Regions from separate parts of the Homo sapiens genome. Here regions 1, 2, 3, 4, 5 and 7 are each linked to region 6. The links come from fine-mapping of genetic effects on gene expression. Tissue or cell type: whole blood. Region 6 holds a variant in brackets; each other region holds the start of a gene. Each region is shown on its reference strand, or each on the opposite one.

The links. PIP is the estimated chance that this variant, and not a neighbour inherited with it, causes the effect.
Region 1: GRAMD1A starts here. The variant in region 6 is fine-mapped to the expression of GRAMD1A in whole blood (TOPMed, PIP above 0.99).
Region 2: it holds the start of LINC02975, and the variant in region 6 is fine-mapped to the expression of LINC02975 in whole blood (TOPMed, PIP above 0.99).
Region 3: THBD starts here. The variant in region 6 is fine-mapped to the expression of THBD in whole blood (TOPMed, PIP above 0.99).
Region 4: it holds the start of DLEU7, and the variant in region 6 is fine-mapped to the expression of DLEU7 in whole blood (TOPMed, PIP above 0.99).
Region 5: it holds the start of GPX3, and the variant in region 6 is fine-mapped to the expression of GPX3 in whole blood (TOPMed, PIP above 0.99).
Region 7: IGSF23 starts here. The variant in region 6 is fine-mapped to the expression of IGSF23 in whole blood (TOPMed, PIP above 0.99).

Annotation. Positions count from the first base shown.
Region 1 is chr19:34,998,353-35,002,414 of GRCh38, forward strand. GRAMD1A (GRAM domain containing 1A) reads left to right here and starts at 1,971. Exons shown (of 20, transcript NM_020895.5): 1 at 1,971-2,134. The coding sequence starts at 2,127. RefSeq lists an enhancer at 1-31 and silencers at 1,806-2,185, 2,456-2,585.
Region 2 is chr9:129,280,179-129,284,241 of GRCh38, forward strand. LINC02975 (long intergenic non-protein coding RNA 2975) reads left to right here and starts at 2,238. Exons shown (of 3, transcript NR_121587.1): 1 at 2,238-2,514; 2 at 2,752-2,880.
Region 3 is chr20:23,047,547-23,051,622 of GRCh38, forward strand. It overlaps THBD (thrombomodulin), which reads right to left and starts at 2,126. Exons shown (of 1, transcript NM_000361.3): 1 at 1-2,126. The coding sequence starts at 1,958. The coding sequence ends at 231.
Region 4 is chr13:50,841,306-50,845,381 of GRCh38, forward strand. It overlaps DLEU7 (deleted in lymphocytic leukemia 7), which reads right to left and starts at 2,387. Exons shown (of 2, transcript NM_001306135.2): 1 at 1,883-2,387. The coding sequence starts at 2,341. The region is part of intron 4 of DLEU7-AS1 (DLEU7 antisense RNA 1); the gene reads left to right. RefSeq lists an enhancer at 1,317-2,243.
Region 5 is chr5:151,018,420-151,022,495 of GRCh38, forward strand. It overlaps GPX3 (glutathione peroxidase 3), which reads left to right and starts at 2,172. Exons shown (of 5, transcript NM_002084.5): 1 at 2,172-2,322. The coding sequence starts at 2,236. RefSeq lists an enhancer at 3,617-4,076.
Region 6 is chr7:50,340,603-50,344,602 of GRCh38, forward strand. All of the region lies in intron 3 of IKZF1 (IKAROS family zinc finger 1), which reads left to right. Among named protein-coding and RNA genes, the nearest start is that of IKZF1, 38 kb to the left of the region's middle. The variant A/G (reference allele first, on the strand shown) is at 2,013.
Region 7 is chr19:44,611,536-44,615,611 of GRCh38, forward strand. It overlaps IGSF23 (immunoglobulin superfamily member 23), which reads left to right and starts at 2,028. Exons shown (of 5, transcript NM_001205280.2): 1 at 2,028-2,235. The coding sequence starts at 2,111. RefSeq lists an enhancer at 3,440-3,941.

The DNA of each region.
Region 1 (4,062 bases), not on the chromosome of region 6:
GAGCGCAGTGGTGCGATCCTGGCTCACTGCAACTTCCACCTCCCGGGTTCAAGCAATTCTCCTGCCTCAGCTTCCTGGGTAGCTGGGATTACAGGTGCAAGCCACTACACCTGGCTAATTTTTTTGTATTTTTGATAGAGATGGGGTTTCACTCTGTTGGCCAGGCTGGTCTCGAACTCCTGATAGGTGATCCACCCTCCTTGGCCTCCCAAAGTGCTGGGATTACAGGCGTGACCCAACGCGCCTGACCTGAAATAAATATTATTTAATTAAAAAACTAAAAGCATTACACTAGAAGAAACAGACCAAAGAGAAATCTAAAGAGATCAGTTGGACAGAGGAAGGTGGTGGGAGGAGGGCCTCTCTTCCATTGGCCGGTGGGAGGCAGCAAATGTCAGATGGTGGATGGGGGTTTTAGAGGTGGGGGTTAGCATGAGAGGTAGGGCACGGCGATAGGGGGGGTGCTGTCCATGCAGAGGGAATAACCAGTGCAAAGGTCTTGGGGTAGGAGGCAGGAAGGTGCCTGGTGAGTTAGAAGAACAGCGGGTAGGCTGGATGGGGGGTGTGAGCCAGGGGGAGATGAGGAGCTGAAGTCAGAGAGCTGACAGGGGCCTTGGGTGCCAAGGTGAGGACTTTGCTTTTACCTGGAGTGAGGTACAGCTGGGGCAGGGCTCTGAGCCAGGAGGGTAGTTAACTGACTCAGGTGGTCCCAGGCTCTCTCTGGCTGCAGGTGAGAACAGACAGTAGGGGCAGGGATGGGAGCAGGGAGATCAGGCAGGAGAGGATGGAGGCTGGGCCAGGGCGTGGGCAGCGGAGGAAGAAGAGTTTAGAATGGAGCGATTGATTTTATACGTGGAGCCCACAGTTTGTGACGGATTGGATGTGGTGTGAAGGAAAAGAGAGGGTCAGAAAAGACTCTGAAGTTCTGGGCCTGCCATTCATCAAAATGGAGAAGTCAGGTGGGCTTCTTTTGCAGGAGGAGGGGAAGGGTTGATGGAGAGGGTTGGGAAGGGAGTTTTTTCAAAAGAGGCGGGGACAGCGTACCCTGGAGAGCGCTGGGGAGCCACAGCCCCGGAGCTGTGAGGTGGGACTCGCATTTCTGTGTGGTTGGGCCAGGAGTCCAGGACACCACCTGACTCTGACCTCTTGCAGACGGGGCGGGGGAGGGGGGACGCAGGTTATGGCGTCAGAGCAGGATCGAATCCAACTCTGCCGCCTACCTACCAGGTGACCCCAACAAGTCACTTCCCATCTTAGAGGCCGGGCTTCTCCTTCCGTAAAAGGACTGATTTTGCCCGTTCCTGCGCTGTCCCCGGGAAAAGCCCTTACCACCGAGTTAGTGGGACTCCCAGCACTGGGGTGATGAGCGCAAGGTCTCAGCACAGATAAGAGCCAGGGAGGCTGGATTCTGACTTGGTACTTGGCCTGGCTGACCAAAACTGGGAAGTCCCTAGAAACGGAGGCACCGGACCTCCTGGGACCAGGAACCCGGGCTCAGAGACTGGGAGAGGGAAGGAGGAGGCGGCCAACCGGCCCCACCCCTTCCCGCCAGCTTCAGGCCCCCTCCCCCATACATACACCTCGGTTTCCCAGCATCTCCAGTCCTCCCCCACCTTCGCCCCGGCTCTCAGGTTCCTCCCTGGGAGGTCCAGGAGCTTCTGGCCAGGGGCATAGTAGTTGCTAGGGACCCTTTTCTAGGTACTAGGGGAGGGGGCTCCCCAACCTGCGGGCAGGCAGCTGCCTCCACGATGTTTGGTTTTAATAAAGTCTCTTTGTTTCCTTCTCTGTCTCTCTGCCCCTCTGCTTTCCCTTCTCTGTCCAGTCCCTCTCTCCCCGGCTTCTCCCTCCTTCTAGGCCTCTGCGGCCCCTCCCCGCCTTCCCTCCCGGGCTGGGGGCGGCGCCGTGACGCGGCGGGGCGGGGGAAGGAAGGGGGTGTCGCTGACGCCGCGGCGGCCTCCGGCGGCTCCGGCCTTTTGTGCGGGCGGTTGGGTCGGGTGGGGGCGGCGGCCGCGGAAGGCCAGGCCGGTGCCCTGCGGGGACGCCCAGCGCAGCCCAGCCCCGCGCAGCCCAGCCCTGCCCTGCCCTGCCCTGCCCTGCGCCCGGGGCGCGCCCACCGCGCCGCATCCATGTTCGAGTAAGGACCGGGCGACTAGAGCTCAGGGACCGGGCGCGCGGGGGAGGCCACCGGAGGGAGGGGGCGCCGCGGGCTTGGGGAGGGGGCGGAGCGGCCGCTGCAGAGGTCGGGGGCCTCTGCACATGGCTCTGGCCGGGGCGATCGGGGTGGGGGCGGGGCAGGGGGCCCCCGGGCGAGGGGTGCAGCTGGGGAGTGGGGCGCGGACGCAGGGCAGGGCCCGGGGTCTGGGTCGCCACTGCCGGCCCGCGACGCACTGGGTTGCGGGGTTTGGCTGGGGGCCCGCGGGTTCATCTGGCGGGGAGGGCCCTCAGGCCTGGCAACCCCCTGCCTGGTAAGCCAGGGGTGAGCGCGAGGCCGAACTGGGGCTCCGGCCTGGGATGGAGACAGGATCGGGACCAGCCCAGGCCCACAGGCCGCGGAGCCCTGGGCGCGCCGGGAGTAGGCAGCCCCCTCCTGCCTGGGCCCCCTCCCACCGTCCTTGGCTGTTGCGGGTCTCGGGGCTGCCGGGGGTGGGGGCTTCCTGCGTCTCTCCAGGACCGCGTGCTTGAGGTCATGGAGGGCGGGGGGTCCTGTGTGCTCGGAATTGACTTCTTACTCCCCTTCCGGTCCAGGTGGGCGCATGTGCTTCCGACTGTGAATTGTCTTGCAAGTGTGTGTACGTGTGTCTGGGGCTGCTAGCCTGCAGCAGCTTTGGGCCTCTGATAGAGTTCCTGCGTGTAACTTAACCACTAATTCTGACCGCGGCTCTGTGTGTCACTGTAAGTTACCTGTGTGTGTCTGGGGCTCCAAATCTGTGGCTGTGAGCAGCTGGTTGTGTGCGTGTTGTGTCTCATTCCATCTGTAGCTCCCTGTGCAAATATAAATTACCCCTGTGTGTCTGAGTGTGACGTTGGAGTGTTTGTACATGTGTCTGGAGTTACCGTGTGTAGCAGCTCTGATCCTTCTTGGGCTGTGTGTGTTTTACCATTAATTCTATCTGTAGCTCCAAGCGTTGCTGTAAGTTACCAGTGTGCGTCCCATTGTGACTTAGTGGTGTGTGTACAAGTGTGCCTGGGGCTCTGGGTTCTACCATGACCCTCTGTGCCTGCATATGCCTGTAATTTAGCTCTGAAACGCTCTTCTTTTTTTTTTTTTCTTTTGAAATAGAGTCTGGCTCTGTCGCCCAGGCTAGAGTGCAGTGGCACGATCTCGGCCCACTGCAACCTCCTCCTGCTGGGTTCAAGCAATTCTCCTGCCTCAGCCTCCTGAGTAGCTGGGATTACAGGCGTGTGCCACCACGCCTGGCTAAGTTTTGTATTTTTAGTAGAGATGGGGTTTCACCATGTTGGCCAGGCTGATCTCGAACTCCTGACCTCAGGTGATCCACCCACCTCGGCCTCCCAAAGTGCTGGGATTACAGGCTTAAGCCATCGCGCCTGGCTTGAAACTCTCATTTAGCTCTGTGTGCCAATGTAAGTTACATTTGTGACATTGTTGTGTGTCTGGGGCTCTGTGAGTGTGGCTGTAACTTAATTTGATTCCATCTTTGTGTGAACATTCCCTTGTGTATTCCTTTGTGACAGTATTGAGTGGTGCCTAGGCCTCTCTGTGTACAGCTGAGACCCTCTGTGGTTTTGTGTGTGTGTGAACAGTGTGAGACCCCTTGTGGCTCTCTGTAGGCTTGGAACCCTCCCTTCTAAGACCCTGGGAGTACCCAGGGCACTTTGGAGGCAATAATGATAACTGACGTTGTCCACCTGTTACAGTTAGTATAGCATGTGCCACGCATTATTCCACTACCTGGCCACTGTGTCCTCGAGATCCACGCCCTGCTCGGCTGCATTATTCCCAAGTCCTGCTTGACTGTGAGCATCAGGGCTCTCCACCAGCTACAGCCACTGACACCTCCACCCCTTGCCACTTTACTTTTTCTTTTCCTTTTTCTCTTT
Region 2 (4,063 bases), not on the chromosome of region 6:
AATAATAATAGTAATAACTGCGACCACCTATACAAATTTCATCTATACATCCCAGGTATTGTGCACCCTCCATACAAATGTATGAAAATTCACAGAAAGCCTGTGCTTGGTCAGTGCTATCATCAGGCCTATTTGGCAGATGCAGAAACAGGCTCACAGAAGGGAAGTCACTTGCTGAAAGCCACATGGCTGGCACGGGGTGGCACTGAGACTTGCACCCAGATCTGGGCAGCATTAAAACCCCTGCCCCACCCGTGGTCCTCTCCTGTCTCCGTGTTAGCGTGGAGCCCTGAGATGTTTTAGGAGCCGGCTTTCCGATTTCCATCTGTGTTTGTGGTGATTGCCCTGATCTTTCAGGCATTCTGCCCTAGAAAGCCCCTTGGGGAGGGGGCTTCCTGTTTCACCTGCTTGGACGTGGCTTTGGAGCTAAGACCGAGAGGAGTCAAGGTGGGATTCCTCGGATGCCCTGAGGGAGTGCGATGGGATGCCTGGGGGCTGCTCCTCCAGCCTCAGACACTCCTGCCCACAGCCCCTGGCCAGGCCCTGCCTGAGCCACTGCTCTAGGCTGCAAAGGGCTGGCTCTCATTTCCTAATTCATCCTGCCAGCTGGAGCCAAGGTGGACTCTCCCCATAGACTGGGATGAGTGCCCTGGCCCAGCTGGACCTGGTGGTGGCTATGAGCCCCCTTGTGTCACCTTTTCCCTACCCAGGGCTCATCACAAGCTGCAGGGGGATGCTCTTGGGTCTCAGGGAGAGTGGCCTGAGTCCCCCGGGGCTTCTGAGTGCATCCAGGCTGCTCTGCTGACCCTGGAAGGCAACCAGGGAAGCTGTGAGGTCAGGGTAAGGGATGGGCCTCAAGAGCGGGTCATGGCCCAGCTGGGGCCTGTGTGGACAGAGGCCTCACTGTCTCCACTGCATGCAGGGAGTCTTGAGGCCAAGTGACACATTTGCCACCTGTGACATACGCCACCAGCCCGTGTGTCTGTGCCCCAGATACAGCCAGCCAGTGCAGAGTGAGGCCTGCCAGGGCCCTGTGTTGTGGGGATGTGACAGAGCTGCCAGTCCTGGTGCAGGTGAGACGTCACCGCCATCCCAGCTGGTCTCCACCTGGAGGACAATTTGGGGACCTCCTGGCACCCTCATGCGTTCCCTCCCCCTTGTTCTGCGTGACTGCCTGTTTTAATTCACATGTCCCTTTCTAAGACTTACAACTGCATTTCTCATAAAGGAAATTATTGGCACAGGGGATAATTGTGATCCAACTCTCTGGCTTCACTTAGAAATCGAGAGGGTGGTCAGTGGGGTCCCACTTACGAGAAGTTCCGGATGGCAGAACAGTACTACAGACATCATGGTCCTCAGGAGGATGCTGTCCTGCCCCAGAGAGGCCGCCGAGGGCTGGCGGAGGGGACCTGGAAGGCAGGTGGGGTTGACTGAGATGTGCCAGGTCGGGAGGGAATCCCAGGGCGGGGACCCTAGAGAAAGCGTGGCACATCTGTGGAGAGCGGACGGGCCACGCTGGGAGTGGAGGGCTGAGGGCTATGTCAGCCCGCTCCAGCAGGAGGACATGAGCCAGGCCTGTCCAGAGGGCTTCTGCAACCTCTTCTGGAAAAAGGACCAGGGAGGTACCTGTTTCATGCCCAGGAGGTCATGATAGTGCCTATCAGCGTTAAATGCCATCTGGTCCTTGCCTCGCAAGGAGCCCTGTCCCCTGGTTCACTGGCTTAGGGGTGCCCCTCAGGTCAGTGTTTCCCCAGTGTGGGGTGGGCACCCTCGGTGACCTAGGAGACAGTGACGTCAGGGATCACACAGCCTCATACCACACAAAGGTGATTCCCTTCTCTGTCTCAGCCCTCTGGTCCCCTGGAGGGGAAGCTTGCAACTCCCCAACGCTTTTCTATCAAAATGCCATCGGCAGGCAACAATAGCCAGCTAGAATTTCCTAACATTGCTTATTTTAATTGTAATTTATTTTTACTTTTACCTTCTATTTATGGCCCATGATCTTAGTTTTTTTTCCACCTAACAGTAGTCACATAAAGTTCCCTTATGGATGCATTTACCTAAGTAATAGCAGTGAATGCTTTTAAAGAAAAATAGAGAGCAAATAACAGAATAAGGTGCCACTGGAAGGGCCGGGTCAAGAGGAGGGGGTGGACGGACCTGTGGGTGGCACTGGCTTTTCGTAACTCAGGAATCAGGAAGTGTAGTTGACACTTGTTTTGTTATGTTTGCTCCAATGGAAAAGGAAGCTGTGGGTGGAGACACATCTGACGGGAGGGATTTGGATCCTGCCAGCTCGTCCCTGCAACCCCCTACTCCGGTCCCCTCAAACCTGTCCGTGGCTGGCAGCCCTGTGATACCTCGCCACATTCTGCAACAGAATCCGAGATAGAGGTAGAAGTGGGGGAGTACGTCGTGGCTGTCAGGGCAGCTTTCTGTAAAATGCTGCCTGGAGGAGCATGTGATTCCAGACCCTCCTCTCTGCAACGAAAGTGAGGTTGACACCTGCAGGTATGATTGTAACACGACTTTTAGTTCAGGTGAGCGCAGCCTTCCTCTCCTGGAGCTCTGGCTCATCCAGCCCTGAGCTCCCCAGTCCAAGGCTCTCCGGGTACCTTGGGCAGCCTCCCTAGCAGGGCGGTGGGATCGGACCAGCTGTTCCCGGCTGCTGGTCCGTTCCAAGCTGCAAGGGCCTAGGTGCGGAGCAATGACCGGCAGGCCGAGCTCCCTCCCTCCCTCTCGTTGCAGGCCTGGGGCCTCCTGGCCCACTGAGCAGAACACACAGAAGCTGGGCCCACCCCTGCCCTCCCCACAAAGGGTCACGGGAGCCACCGCCTGACTTTGAAGCCCACTGACTTGCGGCTGACAAGAGAAAAGGTATTTGGAATTAAGTGAAGGGCGGGAGGCAGGGGCGGGCTAGGCCCTGGGGTCACATAGCTGCAGGCACCTTGACTGCAGCTGCCGTTGGCCCCAGTCCCTTACTTTCTAGGGTTCTGCAGTGGGCCAGAGAAGGGACTATTATTATTATTTCATAACATTTCATCCTGGCTTATTTCTAGCCCCTCAAACGGTGTCCGTACAGGGTTGAACTGCCAAGGGCTCCCAGACCCCTGCTGCCAAGGGGCGGCTGGCTTGTGGTGGCTCTGGGGAGGCAGTGGTGCCCGTCACTGGCACTGGGGAATCTTGTCTGACTTCCCTTTTCCTCCATCTCCTCCCCAGGGCCCGGCTTTTCCTGTGCCCTTCATTTTCCTCCCCCTGTTCTGGGACTTGTGGGTGTCCCCAGAGCAAATTCTTGGGGAGCCATGCCCAGCCGGTCTAGGGGGCACTCAGGGGCTTGCATTTTGTCAGGCTCCCTCGTGGTCTGGTGTGGGTACTCTGGGGACCACATTTGGAGAACCTGGGCCCCCCAGTTGTTAACTAGCAGACGAGGGCCTGTACTTAGGGGCCATTGTCCAGCGTTTAGTGCAGAGTGACTGGAGAAATGGGAGGACCAGACCCTGTGATGGGAGTGAGGGTAGGGGGCACAAGATGGGCCGCCACCCTCCAGGATCTCCTGGTTCACACCAGTGCCTGCGAGAGGCCCCTGGGGCCTCGTGAAAGCACAGGTGGCTGGTTGCATCCCAGGGGTTCTGATTCCCAGGACTGGCCAGGCCAGAGAATCTGAATTTCTGACAAGTTCCTGGGCAAGGCCAATGCTGCTGGCCAGGAGGACCACCCTTTGAGAACCACAGGTGGACACCAGCAGCCGCAGACCCGGCTAGGACCAGGGCAGAGGCCACGCCCTCCCCATTCCCCCGGAGCTGCCTCGGCCCTTGGAGGAATGAGCAGGACCTAAACAGGAACCACGTGATGATATTGACGTGGCACCTGCATGGGAGCACTGCTGCCTGTCCACACTGAGTGCGGCTTCCAAGACCACCCGCAACACACACAGCCCTGCAAGGCGGGAGCTCACGTGCCCCTCACTTTACAGGCGAGAAAGCTGAGGCTCAGAGAGGGCAAGTGACCTGCATAAGGCCACACAGCCAGCAAGTCAGGGAACGGGTGGCCAAACCCAGAC
Region 3 (4,076 bases), not on the chromosome of region 6:
AATTGCCATCATTGCCCAGTGGTCCAGTGACGTCACGGAAGAGGCCGAGGCTCATTCTCCTCCCTCTAATCACCCCCTCGCCAGTTAGCCATGGAATAGAAGAAAACAGCTTGGGGGGTGCGGGGAGGGTCTTCTCCAGCTGTAATGCCAGCTAAGGTGCTTTGGTAGCAAAGCTGGGGGTGAGGAGGCACAGGCTCCTGGACGGAGCCAGGCTCCTGGACGGAGGCCGCTCAGAGTCTCTGCGGCGTCCGCTCGGTCCGCACGTGCTGCAGCACTACCTCCTTGGAAGGGGCCGCGCACTTGTACTCCATCTTGGCCCTGGCGGCGCCCTGCTTCTTGCGCAGGTGGCAGAGGAGCGCCAAAAGCGCCACCACCAGGCACAGGCTCGCGATGGAGATGCCTATGAGCAAGCCCGAATGCACGAGCCCCACGGCCGGAGGAGTCAAGGTGGAGCCGGGCGTCGGGCTGGGCGGGGGCTCGCCAGAGCCGCTGTCGCCACCGTCCACCTTGCCGGAGTCACAGTCGGTGCCAATGTGGCGGGCAAGGGCCGAGTCGGGCCCGCAGATGCACTCGAAGGTACCGGGGAGGTTGTGGCACACCCCGGAGCAGAAGCCGCCGTTTTCGCACTCGTCGATGTCCGTGCAGATGAAACCGTCGTCCAGGATGTAGCCTTCAGGGCACTCACAGCTAGCCTGGGTGTTGGGGTCGCAGTCGGCTGGACAGGCAGTCTGGTTGCAAAACATCTGGCACCTGTGCGGCTCGTGGGGAATGGGCGCGAAGCCCTCGGCGCAGACGCAGAGGTAGCTAGTTTGGTTCAGGGGCTGGCACTGGTACTCGCAGTTGGCTCTGAAGCACGGGTCCACGGGCTCCACACACTCGCCGTCCACCAGGTCGTAGTTAGGGTAGCAGTGGCACTCGAAGCCACCCTGTGTGTTGACACAGCGCTGCGGACACGGACTGGGCTCCAGTATGCAGTCATCCACGTCCTCGCACCGGTGTTGGTCGGCCGCCAGCCGGTAGCCGGTCTCGCACATGCACGAGTAGGAGCCCGGCTGGTCGGGGTTGGGAACGCAGAAGTGCTCGCAGAGGTCGTTGCAGGACTGCGTCGCGGATGCGGTGCAGGAGCGCCCGTCTGCCTGCAGGGCGGCGCCGGCTGGGCACTGGCAGCGGGGAGCCCCAGGGATCGCATTGCACGCGTGCTCGCAGCCGCCGTTCTCCACGCTGCAGTCCCAAGCGCCCGGCGCCTCCCTGGCCCAGTGCCCCTGGACCGCTCCGGGCGGCGCGGTGCACATTAGCTGTAAGCCGAGGGGAGCCACCGCGGCGGAGCTGCCCACCGGCAGCGCCTGGAAGTCCGCTCCGCGGGCCGCGAACGGGGTGCCGTAGGTGATCGAGACGGCGGCAGCCGCGGCGCCGGGCTCCACAGCCAGTGGCCTGCAGGTGGCTGGGAAGTGGAACTCGCAGAGGAAGCCATCGGCCTTCACTTCGCACTGCTGCTCCTCCCAGATCGGCTCGCTGGGCACAGTGGCCTCAGCAGCGGAGACAGCGACGCACAACGGGCCGCAGAGGGGAGCCCCATTGAGGTCGAGCCGTGCCCACCTGCTATAGCTGGTGTTGTTGTCTCCCGTAACCCACTGGAAGCCGCGCAGGGGCCCGAGGCGCTTGGGGTCGCCGCAGCCGGGTGGCAGCTGCAGGCCGATCCAGAGGCGCCGGCGGCCAACGCCGCCGTCGCCGTTCAGTAGCAAGGAAATGACATCGGCAGCCACCGAGGAGCGCACTGTCATTAGGTGGCCCCGCAGTCCGTCGCAGATCTGACTGGCATTGAGGAAGGTCGCGGGGCCCGGGTAGAGCGCGAAGCAGTCGTGCTCGACGCACTGGCTGCCACCCGGCTGCGGCTCTGCGGGTGCGGGGAACCCCAGGCCGGCCAGGGCCAGCGCGCCAAGGACCAGGACCCCAAGCATGTTACCCAGGCGCGCCGCGTGCAGGCGCCGGGGAAAGCGCGGGCACTGCGACAGGGCCGTGCCGGAGCAGAGGGGCACAGGACGCCGATGGCGACAGCCTCTCCTGTCCGTCCCAGCCCAGACACTTCTTGCCGCTGCGCGCAGCCCCTGCGAGGCAGCCTCTGACATGCGGATCGGCCAGGGCTCGAGTTTATAAGTGCCCGGCCCTCCCTCCCTGGACGTTCGGGAAAAGGAAGGAAGTGCCTGGTGGGAAGGGCTGATGCCGCATACTCGGATTGCTGGGTTCTCTGGCCGCCCTTGCGCCCGCCCTCGCGCATGGGATCACCTCGCCGGGATGAGTAAACCCTGCCCTGGCGCAGGGAGGTTCTCGGGCGGGGCCGACAGGGGCAGGCGCCAGGGAAGGCCAGCACCCCTGTAACAAGACGACTGTCCCCGCCCACCACTCGGGCCCCCACGCGTGCAGCCCTCTTTCATCTCTTGGTCCTCCTTTCTTTCTTTTCATACATGTTACAGCCACTTCCAAGGAAAGCCTGGATTGCAAGAGCTCTGGGAACCGGAGACTTCAGAGAAGAGGGCTTTGAATGGGGAGTGGGGGAGGTGGTGCACAGGACCTGCAAGACGCTGGGAGGGGTGATCGGCACCAAGGGCACTTTGGGAGGACCTGCCTAGGACGTGGACTTCCCCGAAGACAGGATCGCAAGGAGAGACAGCTGGATCCTGTCCGCGGCCAAGGTGCCTGGCTCAGGAAACCAGCGGAGCGCGCTTGGCCTCACAGGACAGTGGGTGTGGCTGGGGTGACGGGGCAGGGTGGGGAAGACTGGCCTAACACCAGCGCCCTCTGCCCCATGGCTGGCCAGGGACCCGCGAGTCCCTGGACACGCACTGGCCAACGCCAGACCCCATCTCATCGGGTGGGGAAGTCGCGGGGACACTGTCAGGGCGCCGAAGTCCGGACCCGGCTCAGAGGCGGTGGCAGGTGAATTGCTGCGGCGCCGGGTAGGGGCGGGCGCGTGGGAGCGAGTCAGCCTGGCCAGTTTCGGCCCAGCTTCCGAAGGATGGTGCTTCTTGCACCCCAACAGAGTGGCTGGCAACCCCCCAGGGGAGCGCGCAGGATCCCAGCTGATCCCACCCGGGTCGGCTAAGGAGGTTTCCATTTCGTCCAGAGTCCGAATTGATACCCACGTGCATAGAAACGCCACTTGCTCGGCAAAGGGCACTGAAGAGCCACCGTCCTGTGGATGGGCAGGGTGGGGGGGGGGCTGGAGGAGGACATGGGAATCCGTCACTTTCGACCTCTTCCGGTGGTTCACTTACCGGGAATGCGGAAGAGTGGGTCTCCCCCTCGGGTCGCCCCCATAATGGTGAGAGGCAAACTGTTTAAAAACACCCTTGCCTCTCTCCTCTACTGTCCTCACAACGAGCGCCAGGGGGCGGCGCTGTCGAGCTCTAAACAAAGCCAAGGAAGTTGGAGAAGTTTCGGGCTAAAAAGGGTTAAGGTGTAGGAGCACAGAGTCCTCCTTCTGGGGTTGGAAGCTCCGTTCCCGGGCAGCTCAGCGTGGATTCCGCTGCGTTCACCTCTTGCCTCCAGGGCCCAGTAGATCCTGGGCTTTAAACAAGAACAGAGAGTATGGCGTCTGCCACGTGCGACAGACACGCACCGGTGGGGTGGGCCGGGCTGGACTGGACTGACCTGCAGTGACCAAACGGGTGGGGCGTGGACACTCTGAAAGTGAAAAAGGCAAGCACGACTGTCCCGCCGCACACTCCCCAGCGCCTTGGGGCAGAGAGCCTCCAAACGTCCCGCTGAGTTGAGCTCTTCGCTGGGAAGGCCGCCCCAGCACCCAGGAAACGAAGGAGCTGCTGGACACGGGGGTCTGAAGCTCCCGGAATGCACACAGCTGCGCCTCCCCTGACGCGGACCCCCTGGGAAGAGGAAGGGAAGAGCGGCAGATAGCACAGTAGGGCTTGTCCGGCGGGAGCAGTCAAGCTGTGGCTGCCTAGGCTGAATCAGGGGGTCGTGACTCCGGTGCACAGCCTGCCTACGCGGGACGCAAAAGCAGGGCTGCCTGCGGTGCCGCCATGGGGGTGAGGGTGGAGCTTCAGATAAGGGCAGGAACC
Region 4 (4,076 bases), not on the chromosome of region 6:
AGAGCCTCAGTCCCTTTCAGTGCTGCTGGGCCTTAACCAAAGTATTCTCCTGAAATATTTTTCCCTTTAATGTCTGGAAAATAACATGTATTTTTTTTTTAAAGGCTGCCTCCTCTGAGAAGCCTTCCAGGGTCACCTTAGGTAAAACTGATTGTCAGTCTCTCTTTTTGCCAGCCTTACCTATGCCCTGTATGTGCTACTGACATCACAAGTCACTTCATATTTCATCTATTTTAAAATGCACTTTTATTCACATTTTTTAAAAATCCCTGAAATCAGCCAGATGTGGTGGTACAGGTTTGTAGTTGCAGCTACTGAGGAGGCTGAGGCAGGAGGATCACTTGAGCCCAGGGCTCGAGGCTGTAGTGTTATGATCGCACCTGTGAATGGCTACCACACTGCAGCCTTGGCAACACAGGCAGACCTTGTCTCAAAAAAAAAAAAAAAAAAATCCCTTAAATTAGCATGTAACTTATAATCAATGGTGTATCATAGTTCAATGACAGGATTAAAAAAAATTTTGGTGATACCAAAAAAAAGTACATCTTACATTGGAGAGCATTTGGTGAAATGCAGCTTCATTTTCTAACTTTCTAAAGTGAGTGTAGGAGTGCTTCTCATCTTGCCTCCCACCCCACCGCCCCCGCCACCTTTGGCAGTGTCTGGAGACATTTTTGGCTGTATCAACTTGCGGCGAGGAATATGCTGCTGGCATCTAACAGGTAGAGGCGAGAGATGCTGCTAAACATCCTCTAATACACAGGACAACCCCCGACAACAAAGAATTAGCCAGGTCAAAATGTGAATAGTACAGAGATTGAGAAACCCCTACGTAGAGAAACAATACCTATTTGGGTATATAATAGGCTTTATTATGTTTGATTTTAAATAAATCTTTTACAGTGTATAGTGCAACTTAATGTATAGCAACTTTTTCCAAACCTTGGCTTGTACAGAATAGCAACTCTTGAGACATATTCTAAGCTCTCCTCATCACCCCTCCCCAACTCCTTCTGCTAGATGCCCCAGGGAAATAAAATACAGCAATGCTCCTGGTCAAAATCTGAAAGCCAGAATGTCTCAGAGAGATTCGTGACCTTAAACCAATTAGGTTAGTTAATGGCAAGTCCAGGACTGAAACCCAGACCCCCAGATTTCCGCAATCTCACTCAGCCTGGGAGACAGCTGCTCCCTTCCCGGGCTAAATTGGCTAACACAGTTTGGTACCTTAAGAGGAAATGTGCCCTACCTATATGAGCTGGGTGACTTAGCAAGAGTTTAGCATTTAGTATTCACGCTTTAACACCCGGGACCCACCCAGCTCTCACCCCACTTTATGAGAATGTAGGTTGACTCTGTAAGACCCCTTAGCTCTGTGGGGAATTGGATTTATGCAAAAAATAATAGTGATTCATGAATGTGAAGGAACTTTAAATAAATGTAGATGATTTCATCATACAAAAGGCAGAAGGGACTTAGTAAGTGTATTTAAGGCTCTGGAGGAAGCGTTATTAATTTGGAAAGTGGGTGGGGGGAGCTGTCCTCTATCCCTACAAGCTGCACGTGTGGAAAGGGCCTTTCTAGCGCAGGAAGCTGATTTATGTGAGAGAGGAAGGAGTTCCAGGGGGAGGTTTTGGCAAGGCAGTCCCCACATCTCGGTTGTGCCAGCCAGGCGGGCCTCAGGTGGGTCTGGGGCTCCCTGCCCCTCCTGCTGAGTCCCCAGAGTGTCCCCCGCCCCCTTCCTTCTCCCACTGGGGCTGAATCACAGTGGGCAGCAGTGTTTGGGATCCTGCGATCCACCCATCGCCATCCCAGCAGCCCCACCCTTGGAGGATGGGAGGTTACCCTGCACGCCAGAGGGGATGGCGGGGGCCAGACTCACCTTCAGGTGAATGGGAAAGGACCGCTCCTGCTGGAGGGGCCCCAGCAGCGTCTGCTCCACGCTGACCAGCTCCGAAGTCGAGTCCACCACGCGGGCCAGCGCGCTGCGCATCGCCATCTGGGCCAGGGTGCAGGGCCCGCGGTCCCGGGGGAAGGGCAGCAACTCGGCGCCCCCCTCAGCGCCTCGCACTACCTCCTCCTCTGGGGAGTTCGCCCGCGCCGCGGTCCGCCGACTCCTGGTCCCCACGCCCCCGCCCCGCTCCTCGCGCCCGGGCCCCGGCCGGGCCCGCGGCGGGCCTGAGCGACGGGCTGGAGCGGTGGACACGTGGTCTGGGTCCCGCGGGTTCCCGGGGGCGACTGGACCGTCCCCCCAGCCCCACTCCTGCTGCAGCAGCTGCAAGGTCTGCAGAGCCACCATTTGGTGGCTGATGGAGGCCACTAAGGGCGCAGGGCTGGCCATCGCCTCCGCTGGCGGCCCGGCGCGCTCCGCGTGCAGGTGGAGCAGCAGCGAGGGAGGCGGGGGCGTTGGGGTCGCCAAGGTCACATTTTCTAACCCGCGGCTCCTCGGCCTCTGGGTCTCACAGCGTGTGTGGTCGGCCCCGCCCCCGGCTCTGAATCGGTGACCCGTGCTGGCCTCTGCCTTCGCCTGAAGTCCGAATCAGGCGTGTTCTGACCCAAAGCTGCCTGAAGCGCTGCTCGGTGTGCACTTGAAAATCAGCGAAATGCTGAGCGTTGCTTCTTCCCTCTCTCCAGGGCTTTGATGAGAAAACGTGCTGCTTTGTGCGGGCGCATCCATCGGCGGGGATACCCCGCCCCCACCTCCTTCGAAGGATGCCTGCCAATGACCACTGAGGTCTGGGAGGTGGGGGTGCAAAAGACCCACTCTAGGGCAAAAGTACGAAGGGCTCTAGAAAAACTTGCAAAAGGAAGACTGTGCCTTTCCCAACCCGAGGGGAATTTTCAGAAACTTGTTGAAGCAGCCTTCAAGGCCTTGCATCCCCCAAACAAAAGAAGGAGGAGTTGTGTATCTGGAAGTTCTGCTCTTCTCTGCTTTGCTGGGTGCCACTTGAGCACCGAGAGCCTGGTGGCTGAACTAGCATCAGCAAGCCTCAAGGCCCAGGCCTGGCACTGCCCAGAAAAGCCTAAATGTTTTTTTGTGACACTCCCAAAAGACTTAGGCAGCAAGGTTGAAGTTAATCCTTTTATGAGCCATGAACTTAGGGACAGCTGTACAAATAGTTGCTGTTTTTAATTAAACCCAACATGGCTACTTCCTTAACTTAGAAAAAAGCGACTAGCAATGTTATGCTTTGATAGATTGGAAACCATGGGTGTGTGATCACACTTAAGAAAATAGAAGATATTTGAGAGGAGTGGTATGGAAAACCAGTCCGGAGCAGCATTGTTCCTGCTTGCTTTCTGCAAGGAAAACCACTAGACAACCCAACAGCCCAGTAAAGCCAGGGCAATGGTGCATGCCCACGACAGACAGGTGGGCCCTGGCAGACCTGAGGATGGAATTGCATTACTCCTTTGGGAGCCAGACTGCACCCTTGGTGCTGTGCAGATCTGGAGAGGCTTTTGAGTGAAAAGGCCACACTGGTTAGTCTGTGAGCACAAAAGGATCATCAGAAGAGATATGGAGAGGGATGTTGGGTCCTTTAAGGTTTCCTTAACCCTGGGATAGTATGACCCCATATAATCCTCCCAACTTGCCAGCAAAGGTTCCTTCTCCTTCCCAGTGCTTTCTTCGCCTATGAAAACGAATCTGAATGCCAAGGTAAAGAAAACCTTTCTTAAACAAAAACGAGTATGTTCACACTAATTATAACTAAGTAAAAATGCACGTCTGTGCATTGACAGAGAGGAAATTACTTTGGAGGGAAGTAAATAGTTTAATGTTGATTAGATTTTTTTGCCATGAAGTTACTTAAGTTCATAATAAAAAATAGAAAGAAAAAAATTTTCTTTTTAAAAAAAGTCTTCAAATGTTGAAATATATTAGGTTCAGCAGAGACTAACCAGCAATAGCAAAAATGAACCCCTAATTTTCACAGAGCATGTCAGATCTCTAGGGCTGCCTCTCTTTCCAGATACACAGGAAATTCAGTTTCATGGGCTAACCCTTCCACTATCAAATGGCTGACTGCAAAACTTTCTTGACAGTTGGAATTGCAGCCAAGAGCAGAATTGAA
Region 5 (4,076 bases), not on the chromosome of region 6:
ATCTCAGGTCTCTGGCTCCTTCTTGTCTCCCCTAAAGAAATAGACCACCAGGGCTGGGATTAAGGTGAGACAAGTGAGACATAGAGGGTGCAAAATGTAGAGAGATGCCCGCTGCCAGGTGCCAGCCTGCACTTGTGTGACCCTAGGTGCCTTCCCTTCCCTCACCCTGCTGGTATCTGCTGGAAACACCTTTGAGAGCAGGGACTTTGGCTTTTAGACAACTCTTTAGCATCTCTCATGGTGTTAACATGTTGCTAGGTGCCTATTTTGAGGGTCACTAGATGCCTACTGATACTAATGAACAATGGATTTCTGACAAACTGATGTGCACACAGATGTTTATATTTTAGGGTAAATACGAACCTTAAAAGACAACAGAACAACATGGAGAGGGCCTGAGACTGAGTCTAGAGACCTGGATTCTGGTTCCCTCCCTGCCATCAGTTGGTTATGGGAACTTGGATAAATTGCTCCTCATCTCTAGGCTTCAGGGAAATGAGGTGGTTGAATAAAACGTATTGAGCACTTACTGTGTGTCAGCCATTGTTCATATGCTCCCAGGCTTTAACTCAGCTAAAGACTTCCTGGCCTCTGTGGTTCCTTCCACTTCAACAGGCTGTGGTTTGAGGTGGGAAGACTTCGTAGAGAATGCAAAACTTGAGAGACATCTTCCAAATTCCCAGGGGGATGTTAATACCTTTAATCATAGTAAAGGTATGGTTTCTCAAGGCATTTCTTGGTCAGAAGAAAGTTCCAGAAGGCACTTAATCCTAGGACTCACACTACCAAGGCTACAGCCAGGCCAACTGCCTCACAATAACCTTAGAACATGTCTGAAGACAGATTTTCAGCTTCTGCCCCTAGAGATTCTAATGCAGTGATTCCAAAGTGGGGTCCAGGAATCTGTATTAAAGGCTTCCCAGTTGACTCTGGTGGTCAGAGAGATTTGAGACTGATTCCATCACATTCCCCATCTGTGAACGGGATCATACCTAGACAGCCCAGCCCTAGAACTGCCTGGTCTGATCCTAAGTGTTCCATGGAGATTTTGTTTTTTTAATGTAATGAATGATTAAGTCAGCAAATACTTTACATCTCTTGTGTGCTAGGCCCTGTGCCAGGTGGTGATTATGGGCCCTATTCTCAAAGGACTCCTGGTCTCCGTCTGTCACTTACTTTAGAAACAAGTCATCTAGCCAGAGCCAGAAGGGCACTGGAGATCACTAATCAATCCCATCATTACATAGCTGAGGAAACTGAGGCCCAGAGAGTAACTGCAACATGTTAAAGACTACACAGGGAGCAAATTTATTTTCTGCTTCTAAGCCAGGTGGTTTGGCCACAGATAGGCCAAGAAGAATACGAACAGACAAGCCTTGCTGGGTTTCCCACTCAGTTTATTACTATTAGACCATTCCCTTTTTCCCCACTCACATTTCTGCGCATTTCCATGGTCTTCATAGAATCTAAGCCTAAAAATAGAGTTTTCCTTGAGTCTTTGGGTCTTCATTTCTGAAGACTCTCATGTCACAGAAAACTTTAATTAAATAAATCGTTATGCTTTTCTCTTGCTAACCTTTTTCTACAGGCATGTCAGCTGTGATCCTTATGATGGGGAGGAAAGGCACCCCACCTTCTCTGTCCCTACAGTCCTAATGCCCTACCCAGAATGGGGTTTTCAAAATCCCAGGACACCCACTCTTTGTTTCTTAAGCACTAAACCTATATATAGTAAATGTTTCTGGAAGTTTAACTTCAGCTCTTGCTGAAATTTTAAACCCTCAATTTCCAGAGGACCATCGCCAGGTGTTTTTAAAACCTCGATAGGAATAAGAAATGCTTCCCAGAATGGAGACTTCCATCAGTTCTAGGGAGCTATTAGCCCCCTTGCCCTGGCTGTAATGGAGACCGCTGTGTCTGCCTCCTTTCGCACTTTGGAGCCAAAAGAGGAAGGGACCGCCTCCCACGTCCACAGGGACCTGACTTCCACCTCTCTGCCCAGATTTGCTTATGTCACTGTCGCCCCGGGACGGGGAGGTGGGGAGCTGAGGGCAAGTCGCGCCCGCCCCTGAAATCCCAGCCGCCTAGCGATTGGCTGCAAGGGTCTCGGCTTGGCCGCGGATTGGTCACACCCGAGGGCTTGAAAGGTGGCTGGGAGCGCCGGACACCTCAGACGGACGGTGGCCAGGGATCAGGCAGCGGCTCAGGCGACCCTGAGTGTGCCCCCACCCCGCCATGGCCCGGCTGCTGCAGGCGTCCTGCCTGCTTTCCCTGCTCCTGGCCGGCTTCGTCTCGCAGAGCCGGGGACAAGAGAAGTCGAAGGTGAGTGAGCCTCCGGGCCGGGGGCCGGGAGAAAAAACCTAGCCCCTCGGTGTCCAGCGCTCAGTGCAATGCACCCCTTTTCCCAGGCTCCCCGCCAGATGGGCAATCCCCAGGTGCGAGAGACCTCCTGAACCCCTTTTGCCGCCCCCTCCGCCGCCGGGACCCCGCCCCCGACCGTCGTCGTCTCGTAGTTCCATCTGTTGGAGAGCCGAGACCTGGTGCTTCAGGCGGGCAGAATGACTAAGGGAGGAAGGTCTCTCTCCCCGAGCTCGCACTTTCTCCCCACTGCCACCTCGAGGGTCGCCTTGCTACATCTATGTCACCTCCGTGCCTGAGCTGCTCCCCTTCAGTAGGGCCTAAGAGGGAGGGCGTCACAGAAAAAAATGCCCAGCGTCTGGGTGGGCTGTGCAAGTTCCCAGGGAGAGAGACAAGGAGAAAGGAGAGAGGCAGCTGGGTGGTCCTGGTCCTGAAGAACTGCTGTGGGGGGCTCTTCTACCCCAAGAATGATACAGGCAGGTAGAAATGGCCACTTGGATTCAGGGCATTGGTAGAAGAGGCAGAGATCTGTGCTAGAAAGAGCTCTGGAGTGACAGTGCAGAACACTCAGGACCCTGAGTCCTTACCTGCTCCTGGACCCCCGTTTCTCCATCTGCAGGGGAGAGTTTGGGGGTGGGAGTGCATGGGGCACAATGAAGCTGAGGGCCTCAGAGGGGATGCTTGGAGAAGCTGAAAAATCCACAAGCTGTTCTCTGAAATTTCCTCCCCTGGGGCAGCCTCACTACCCAGGACCCACTGTCCTCATTAGCCTGAGGAAACCTGGTAGTTGGAGAAAGCTGGGGACTGCTAATTCAGAAGAAGAGGTAGAATTCTCTAGAGCCTCAGTCTATTTCCAGCAGGTGTGTGGCCCACACCTGGAGTGGGGATACTGAGGCCAGGAGTGGGATGACCCAGCATGCTTATCTCCTTTGACAGTATGTACTGGGGTGGGCTCTGTAGACCTCTCCTCTACCCAGGGAGTGGGAGTGGGTGGGGAAGGAGGCAGAAGCCAGGTGTAGGGATAGACTCAAAGCGAGCGATTTCTGTCTCCAACTTCCCAACATGCATAACTCACATTTTTGCAAGCTCTGAGCTTTTGTTTCTAAAATCCTCTGGGTCTTCACTTTAATTAAGTTCTTATGAGTCTAGGATTCCGTTTCCAAAATTCTGTCCACTTCTCAGGAAGCCCATTGGAAGCACAGGGTTCCTTCCATGTTACTCACCCCTTTTCGGTCCTCAGCCTAAATCCGATTAATCAGCCTCTCCTTGGAGTCAGTCTAAATGGATGTGAAGCCACTTCGTCCAAGTCCCCTCCTTTTTATCCATCCCTGTTCATAATCCCCAACTCAGAAGGCATTTTCCAGGTCAGGAATGGGATCGATTTTCAACATTGAGGTTTGGGGTGGGCCATAGACAGGCCAGCACCGTGGAGTCAGTCCCAACCTTCAGTTTTGGAAAGGTCAAAGAAGATACAATTGGGCCCTGCCTCAAGAAGGCTAGTGGGGAGAACGTGGACTCCATGAATAACTCATCATAGCTGTGTCTTCTCTGCAGCACTCTGGGGAAGGATAAATGGACTCAGAGAGAATAGGATGGGGATGGTCTAGAAAAGTTTTAGGGTGAGGTGTGATCATATCACATACAACCAGTCAGGACTTGCTGGCTAATGAAAGCCTGGGCATGCCCATCTCTGCTCCCAAGTTCTTAGAGTTCAGATG
Region 6 (4,000 bases):
CATTTTTATTATGATTCTTGGAACCTGGCAGAATTTTGACTGCTTTTGCAATATCTCTGTGCTCTCCAGTTGAACTTGGTGGCAATAAAATTAAGAATCTGCCAGTGCCCCCCAAGCATTTCTACTCTGTCCATAATGTTTAGTGACAATTAACTATTACCAGGTGTAGCCACCCTTACTTAATCTTAGTGTTATGGTGCAAGTAATCCTTAGTGAAATTATTGTTCTGTAGAGAATGCTGTGATCTAAGTGAAGTGACTTTCATCCTGAGATGACAATGGAGTTGTTTTTGTCACTGTAAAGGCTGCATTTACTCGCAGTTTTAAAGCATTATTGCTACTTATATATGGTCTCAACACTGATTTTTATATTTGACTTTGTAGCTTTAAGTGTAAAAATTTCTGTTAAGGTTTTATATGTGTTAGTTAATTTTTCCCATTTCAATAACCATGTTTTATTATTGATGGAGTCTCCTAAAAATATACCCTTAAAATCTGCTTGCCCTGTGCCTGCACACATATTTTAAATGTTGGGTATGGAGTCTTTTTTTTTTTTTTTTTAGACAGAGTTTCACTCTGCAGCCCAGGCTGGAGTGCAGTGGTGTGATCTTGGCTCACTGCAGCCTCCACCTCTTGGGTTCAAGTGATTCTCCTGTCCCAGCCTCCCAAGCAGCTGGGATTACACGCCCGCCACCATGCCCAGCTGATTTTTTGCATTTTTAATAGAGATGGGGTTTCACCACGTTGACCAGGCTGGTCTCGAACTCCTGACTTCAGGTAATCCACCTGCCTCAGCCTCCCAAAGTGCTGGGATTACAGATGTGAGGCACCGTATCCAGGCTGTATGGAGTCTTTCTAATCAGGACATAGGCAGACAGTCCTAGCCCAGCTTTATGCCTTATGAGACGCAACAACGTTGAACAGTCATTGTTTGAGGGACAGAGGTTTTACAGATGGATGATAACTAGCATCTGTGGAACATTATTTGTGAAATATAGAAATCAGAAATTCCAGCGTAGCACTGTCCAAGGGGAACATAATTTGACCTGCATATTTGCTGGTCCATTTTTAGTAGTCACATTAAAAAAGAAAAATGACACAGGTGAAATTAATTTGAATATATTTTCTTAATTCAGTATGCTTAAATATTATTTAAGTATGTACTCAATATAAGCAATTGTTAATGAAATATTTTACTCTTTTTGAACTATGTGTTTGAAACCCCGGATGTATTTTTTTTTTATCTTCACCACACATTTCAATTTGGGTTGGTCACATTTCAAGTGCTCAGGAGTCACATGCAGCTAGGGGTTACCTATTGGACAGGCAGGCAGATCTTGAGAGCTCCAAAGAACTGTGTGTCATTATATTGTGGAAAAAAAAAAAACTTTTTAGATTAACCCTTGTTGAATGTTAGCCAAAGACTAGTCATTTATCAACTCTCTAAAAGTAGTTTTTAAATCAATTTGCTTTTCAAAACATTTTCTCAGTGTTGTCACAAATGTATGTGAACATCTGCTTTTTAAGTCTTTCATTTTTTGCCCACATTTGATGTAAAGAAAATCTAGGTCCAGTCCAATTTTAACATCAATTGGGTTTATTTTATGTAGCTGTGTTTTAAGTACAGGTCTTGTACTTGTAGGCATTTTGGTTAAGTACAAAGTAACGAGAATACAACAACATGTGAACATGTCAAACAAATCAGTTTTTCAAAGCTAAGTAGCTGAATTAAATGTAGAAAAACATGACATTTAATTTTTGTCTTCATCCCTTCATTGTATTCCCATGTACTCTATGGTAACTTTTTTAAGTTGGGAAGTCCTCTTTAAATTTTTGAAATGAGGTAGCTGCTTTATAGACATGAGGCAGGTTCCCAGAGAGCGCCCTTGAGGACAGGCTGTAAGTAAACTAAGCTGCAAAGACAGACACCATCACAACTATGGAATTGTTTTGCAAAAATTGTGGAGAGTGATGCCCCTTGATACTTCCTAAAAGATGCTTTTGCAACCTGAT[A/G]AAGCAACCGAGGAGAGGTGGTGAAGGAAAGGCTTTTTTTTTTTTTTTTCAAAGAGAGAAAGAGAAGCAGCAAGCTGCCTGCCTGCAGCCTGAGAAAGCAGTTCCACCTTGGCACCCATGTCCTCATAGCCCAAGCGGGGCCACCCTGGCATGTGAATCTGCTCCGCAGTGTGCAGCCCAGACCCCAGCCTTCCTGTGAAAGGGACACCTCCTGCTGCTAACCGCTGCTCTTCCTGCAGTTCAGGAGACAGCGTGTGCTCCTGTGGCGGCTGCATTTCCTGAGTACACCATGATCCAAAAAGGCACAGATTCGTCATGGAAGCTTTGATTGGGCCGTTACTGTCTTTTGACCTTTCTTGTTTGCTTGCCCTTTTGTTTCTTTCCTCCTTTTTCCTTCCTTCCTGTCTTTCTTCTTCCTTCCTTCCTTTCTTCCTTTTTCTTTTTAATTTTCCTCCTTTCTCTTTCTCCTTTCTTTCCTTCCTTCTTTCCTCTTTTTTTCTTTCCTCCCTCCCTCCCTTTCTTTCTTCCTTCCTTTCTTTCTTCCCTCCTTCCCTCCCCACCCTCCCTCCCTTCCCCTCGTCTCCCTTCCCCTCGTCTCCCTTCCCCTCCCCTCCCTCCCTCCCTTCCTCCTTTTTCTTTCCCTTTCCTCCTTCCTTCCTTCCTCTCTTCTTTTCTCCATCCCTTTCTTCCTTTTAACATTTGATCATGGGTACCATTTCATCAAGATTCTGTTACTTAGGTCCAAGGACTAGTGACCAAATTGTTTTTCCCAGGAGTAAACTTTTCTACAAGACATAGAGAAATGACTGCCAGTGCCATCAGGCACACCATCCTGTGTGATAGGTAACCTAAAATAATGGTACAGCGGGGAGTAACTGGAAGAGTCACAACTACACAAATCTCTTGCATTTTCCTGATCATTAAATGAATTAGGGATTTCCTGGTTTGAGATTTGTGGACAAGGAGAACTACTTCTTTGTACAAGAGGCTTGTGCCAGGAGAAGACACGCTGTGGTTACAATGTTACTGTCTCTAGCTATGGTCATTTCATGTCTTTAACTGAGTGTACCTAGAGTGTAATACAGTGCAGCAGTGATGGGCTGAAGGCCTAATGCACCAGCACACATGCCTGGAAGACCTAACGTTGAGAATCCGCATTTTTTTCATCACTCACATTTATTTTGCATCTCCCTGTTTTGATTACCTTCAGAGACCCAAGCACTTGCTTTTGTATATTTGAGTCTGGGTTTTATTTTCCTTTTAGAAATAGTCCAAAATCCTTTTAGAGCCTAGACCTTTGAATAAAGTGCTAACTTAACCTGAGGAATGCTGTTTTTTTGTTCACAAATAAGGCTTAATTGTGAAGTCGTGAGAATTGCTTTCTGAGCTGACTTATAAATTTACCCACCTCTTTTTCCCCAAACCCCCAAAAAATCCTCCAGAAGGTGAGCCCAGCTTGTTGTAAAAGATTTTGAAGCAGAAGTCCTGGGTTTAAGCTTCAGTTCTCTGCCTTACCAGAATCGGGATGTGTGGGGCAGGCCTACCTCCTCTTTCTTCATCTGCAAAATACATTGAATGAAATCATATTTTTTCCTAAGTATATGACATGTAAAGTGGTATTTCAAAAACTCATTAATCTGCATGACCAGGTCAGAAAAGACACACCTTTTGCCTTGTGTCTAGTGTGTGACTGTCCTCACATGTAGATGACCCAGGCCACATCCGCTGATGTTGTCTTCCTTTACTTCTTTGTCCCTTCCAATGACTCCTTTATGAAGTCAATCAGCAGTGTTTCTAAGCCAGGTTCCTTCTCTTCACACATCCCCAACCCACAGGGCAAGTCATCCACATTTTGCCTCTCTATTTTTTGTGCTTTGGGAAACACATTTTACAACTTCCAAACTATTTGCCTAAGTTCATCTGAGCACATCTAGAATTATTCCACTCCTCTGCATCAGTGCTAAAAGTACAATCATGTATAAGCTGTT
Region 7 (4,076 bases), not on the chromosome of region 6:
ACTAAAAATATGAAAAAATTAGCTGGGCATGGTGGCACATGCCTGTAATCCCAGCTAATCCGGAGGCTGAGGCATGAGAATCTCTTAAACCCCAGAGGTGGAAGTTGCAGCGAGCAGAGATCACACCACTGCACTCCAGCTTGAGCAACACAGCAAGACTCTGTCTTTAAATAAATAAATAAAAATTTAAAAACAGAAAAAAGAAAAATTGCTTTATTCCCCAGAGTTCCAATAAAATCCGTAAGAGATTGCTTCTCCTTGGCCTGTTCTGAGTGCCACGCCCAGGTCTCCAAAAATCACTGTTGTCAGGGGATGAAGTGCTCTGATTGGCCAGTCCTGGGCCCCTCACCTCCCTGGAGCCATGAGGAGGCTGGTTTCCAAAAGAGAACTCCAGGTGCTGTTACCTGGATACAAGAGAGTACTGGCTGGGTAGAAACCCCAGAAACCTTACAACATAATGGTTATTAACTGCATCGTAAATATTTACTTTTTCCTACAGTGGTCTCCTGACCTAGCTAATCACTCCAGCAGAGGCCTTCAGACCAACTATAAAAAAGGCACTTTAGCAAATGCTAATAAAGAAATAACTGTGTCACCTGATAATGACTATTATTAGAGACTTATGGGTGAACCTTAGCCCCTGGGTGGAACCTGAACCTCTCTGGGAGGGAAAAGCATGAGCTTCTAAGTCAGAAAGATCTGAGTTCAAGTCTGAACACTCCCATTTCACTCACTTGCTCTTCATTCATTTATTCACTAAAAAGAAAACATGTAGGCTGGCTAGGTGGTTCATGCCTGTAATCCCAGCACTCTGGGAGGCTGAGGCAGGAGGATCACTTGAGCCCAGAAGTTTGAGACCAGCCTGGGTAATATAGTGAAACTCTATTTCTACAAAAAGAAAAAAAATTTAATTGGCTGGGAATGGTAGTGTGAGACTGTAGTCCCAGCTACTCAGGAGACTGAGGCAGGATTATTGCTTGAATCCAAAAGGTTGAAGCTGCAGTGAGCTATGACCGTGCCACTGCACTCCAGCCTGGCTGACAGAGTGAGACCCCGTCTCAAAAACAAAAACATGTATTGAGCACCTGTTATATGCAAGGCACTGTTCTAGTCACTAGGGACATAGCCACAAGCCAGACAACATCCCTGCCCTCCTGGATCTGATATTCAAGTCGGAGAGGTGGGACTAAGGAGGGAGAGACAGATAATACAAGTGGACAAATAAATAAATCATCTAAAATAGCGGTAAATGATGTAAAGAAAACAAAACAGTGTGGCTTGCTAGCAAAGAGGTGGGGAACTGAGTTGCAGCAGGCATTAAGAAAGGCCTTTTTGATAGAGTGATGTGTGTGAATTAAGCCAAAATAATAAGATACAGTCAGCTTTGAGATTACATGAGTAAGGTTCTAAGGAGAGGGAACGGCTCATGCAAAGCCCCTGAGCTGGTGCCTCCAAAAACTGGCAGAAAGCCCCTGTGAACGGTTGTGTGATGGTAGGTGAGTTACTTAGCCCCTGTGCACCACGAGAAAATGGGGATGCTCATATCTACCCCTCGAGGTTGCTATGAGGATTCAAATTAGGCAACCCTGTTACAAGGTTAATGCTGTGTCCGGCATATAGTAGGTGTTCAATAAACACCAGCTATTAGTTTGAGTAATATAATTATTAATTTGAGGAGGAAAGAATGGACCTGGGGAGTGAGAAGGGTGAGGAAAAAGTAGCTAGTGTAGCTTATCCTTCTAGAATCTAAAATTCAGGATATAGTCTGAGCAAGCTCCTGATAACGGGATTCTAAACATGCCTCCAGGACATCCTAGACACCAAATTATAATTAGCATTGACTTCATAGTGACTGCCATTCGTTGAGCGCCTACTACGTGACCAGGCACTACTCCAAGCACCTTGTGTCCACGGCCCTGTCTGACTCTGGGGCAGGCACTATTATTAACGCCTCCATTTTACAGAGGAGAAAAGCTGTGGTTCAGAGTCCAAAGCCCCGTCACCTCCTACCAGGTTGACCTTTGGCCATTCCTTGCCTTTGATGTGAGTGATAGGAGCGGGCGATTCTGCTTCTCCCTCCATCTCCCGGCGGGGATTGTACGGTGAGAGAATGAGAGCAAAACCTCAGAGCCCCCTTCCCAGGAACCCTGTCCCAGCCTGGTCCCCACCCACCACCACCACTGACCCGATGCTAGAGAAGGATGCGGCTGGAGGTGACTTCCCAGCCAACTTGGTGTAAGTCATGTGGGGAAGTGGCCAGGGTAGGGCATGGTCATCGTGAGCAGGGTCCTGCAGGGTGAGGCCGGGGCTGCAGACGCGACTGTACAGGTCTATGAAGACCCCATGTGTGATGAGGAGACCTTCTCTGCACAGTCCCTGGACAGAACACGAGATGAGGGGTCCTCTGGACGTCAGCTCCAGCCACACCCCTACCTGGAGGAAGCTGCTTTTAACAGGTGCGTTGGAGACAGCGGCTTCACCACGGGCCAGGGACAAGGAGGAGAGTGTCTCCTTACGAGTCCAAGTCACCCCCACTCAGAGCTTTGACCCTGTCAGTTTGAGGCCCATGCAGCTCAGGCACCCAACTCATGAGAACTCTTGAAGGCCACTCCGCCACAAGAGATGACCCTATTGGCTTCTTTTAGGAAGAAGGGAAGTGAGGCGCAAAGAGGAGAACAGGTCACCTACCCAAGATCACAGGGCTGGCAAGGGGCAGGATCAGAATTTGGGACCCCAGCCCAGCCCCCTTCCACCAGAATGCCCTGTCTCACCCCTGCAATCCGCAACTTAGTAATAATACATATAAATAATAACAATCATAAAATAATAACAGCCGTAATAGAAGGTCACTGTAACTGAATAGATCTATATACCAGCCTGTTTGGGGTTTTTGTTTTTTTGTTTTGTTTTGTTTTGAGACAAGGTCTTGCTCTGTTGTCCAGGCTACAGTGCAGTGGCCCGATAATGACTCATTGCAGCTTCAACCTGCTGGGCTGAAGCTGTTCTCCTGCCTCAGCGTCCTGCGTAGCTGGGACCATAGGTATGCGCCACCAAACCCAGCTAATTTTTTATTTTTAGTAGAGATGAGGTCTTACTATGTTGCCCAGGCTAGTCTCGAACTCCTGGGCTCAAGCGATCCTCCTGCCTCGGCCTCCCCAAGTGCCAGGATTACAGGCGTGAGCCACTGCGCCCAGCCTGTCAGCCCGTTCTAAGTGCTTTCCTATAGTAACATTTACCTCTTATCACAACTCTTTGAGATCAGAGCTGTACGATCCCTATTTCACAGAAGGGGAAACTGAGGTTCAGAGAGGTCATGTGCCCTCTCCAGGTCACACACTTGGAAGTGGCAGACTGAAGATTTGAAGCCAGATGGGCTGGCTTCCCAGACCACACTTTCCAGAGACCACACACATCTGCCTCTCAGATAGTGAATGAATTGCTTCCTTATCCAGGTCTTAAAAGTTCACTTCTGAGTTGGGCGCGGTGACTCACACCTGTAATCCCAGCACTTTGGGAGGCCGAGGCAGGCGGATCACGAGGTCAGGAGATCGAGACCATCCTGGCTAACACGGTGAAACCCCGTCTCTACTAAAAATACAAAAAATTAGCCAGGCCTGGTGGCGGGCGCCTGTAGTCCCAGCTACTCAGAAGGCTGAGGCAGGAGAATGGCGTGAACCCGGGAGGCGGAGCTTGCAGTGAGCCAAGATCGTGCCACTGCACTCCAGCCTGGGCGACAGAGCACGACTCCGTCTCAAAAATAAATAAATAAAGTTCAGTTCTGAGCCGGGTGCAGTGGCTCACGGGTGCAGTGGCTGGGATTACAAAGTGCTGTAATCCCAGCACTTTGGGAGGCCAAGGCGGGCGGATCATCTGAGGTCAGGAATTCAAGACCAGCCTGACCAACATGGAGAAACCCCGTCTCTACTAAAAACAGAAAATTAGCTGGGCGTGGTGGTGCATGCCTGTAATCCCAGCTACTTGGGAGGCTGAGGCAGGAGAATTGCTTGAACCCAGGAGGCGGAGGTTGCGGTTAGCTGAGATGGTGCCATTGCACTCCAGCCTGAGCAACAAGAGCG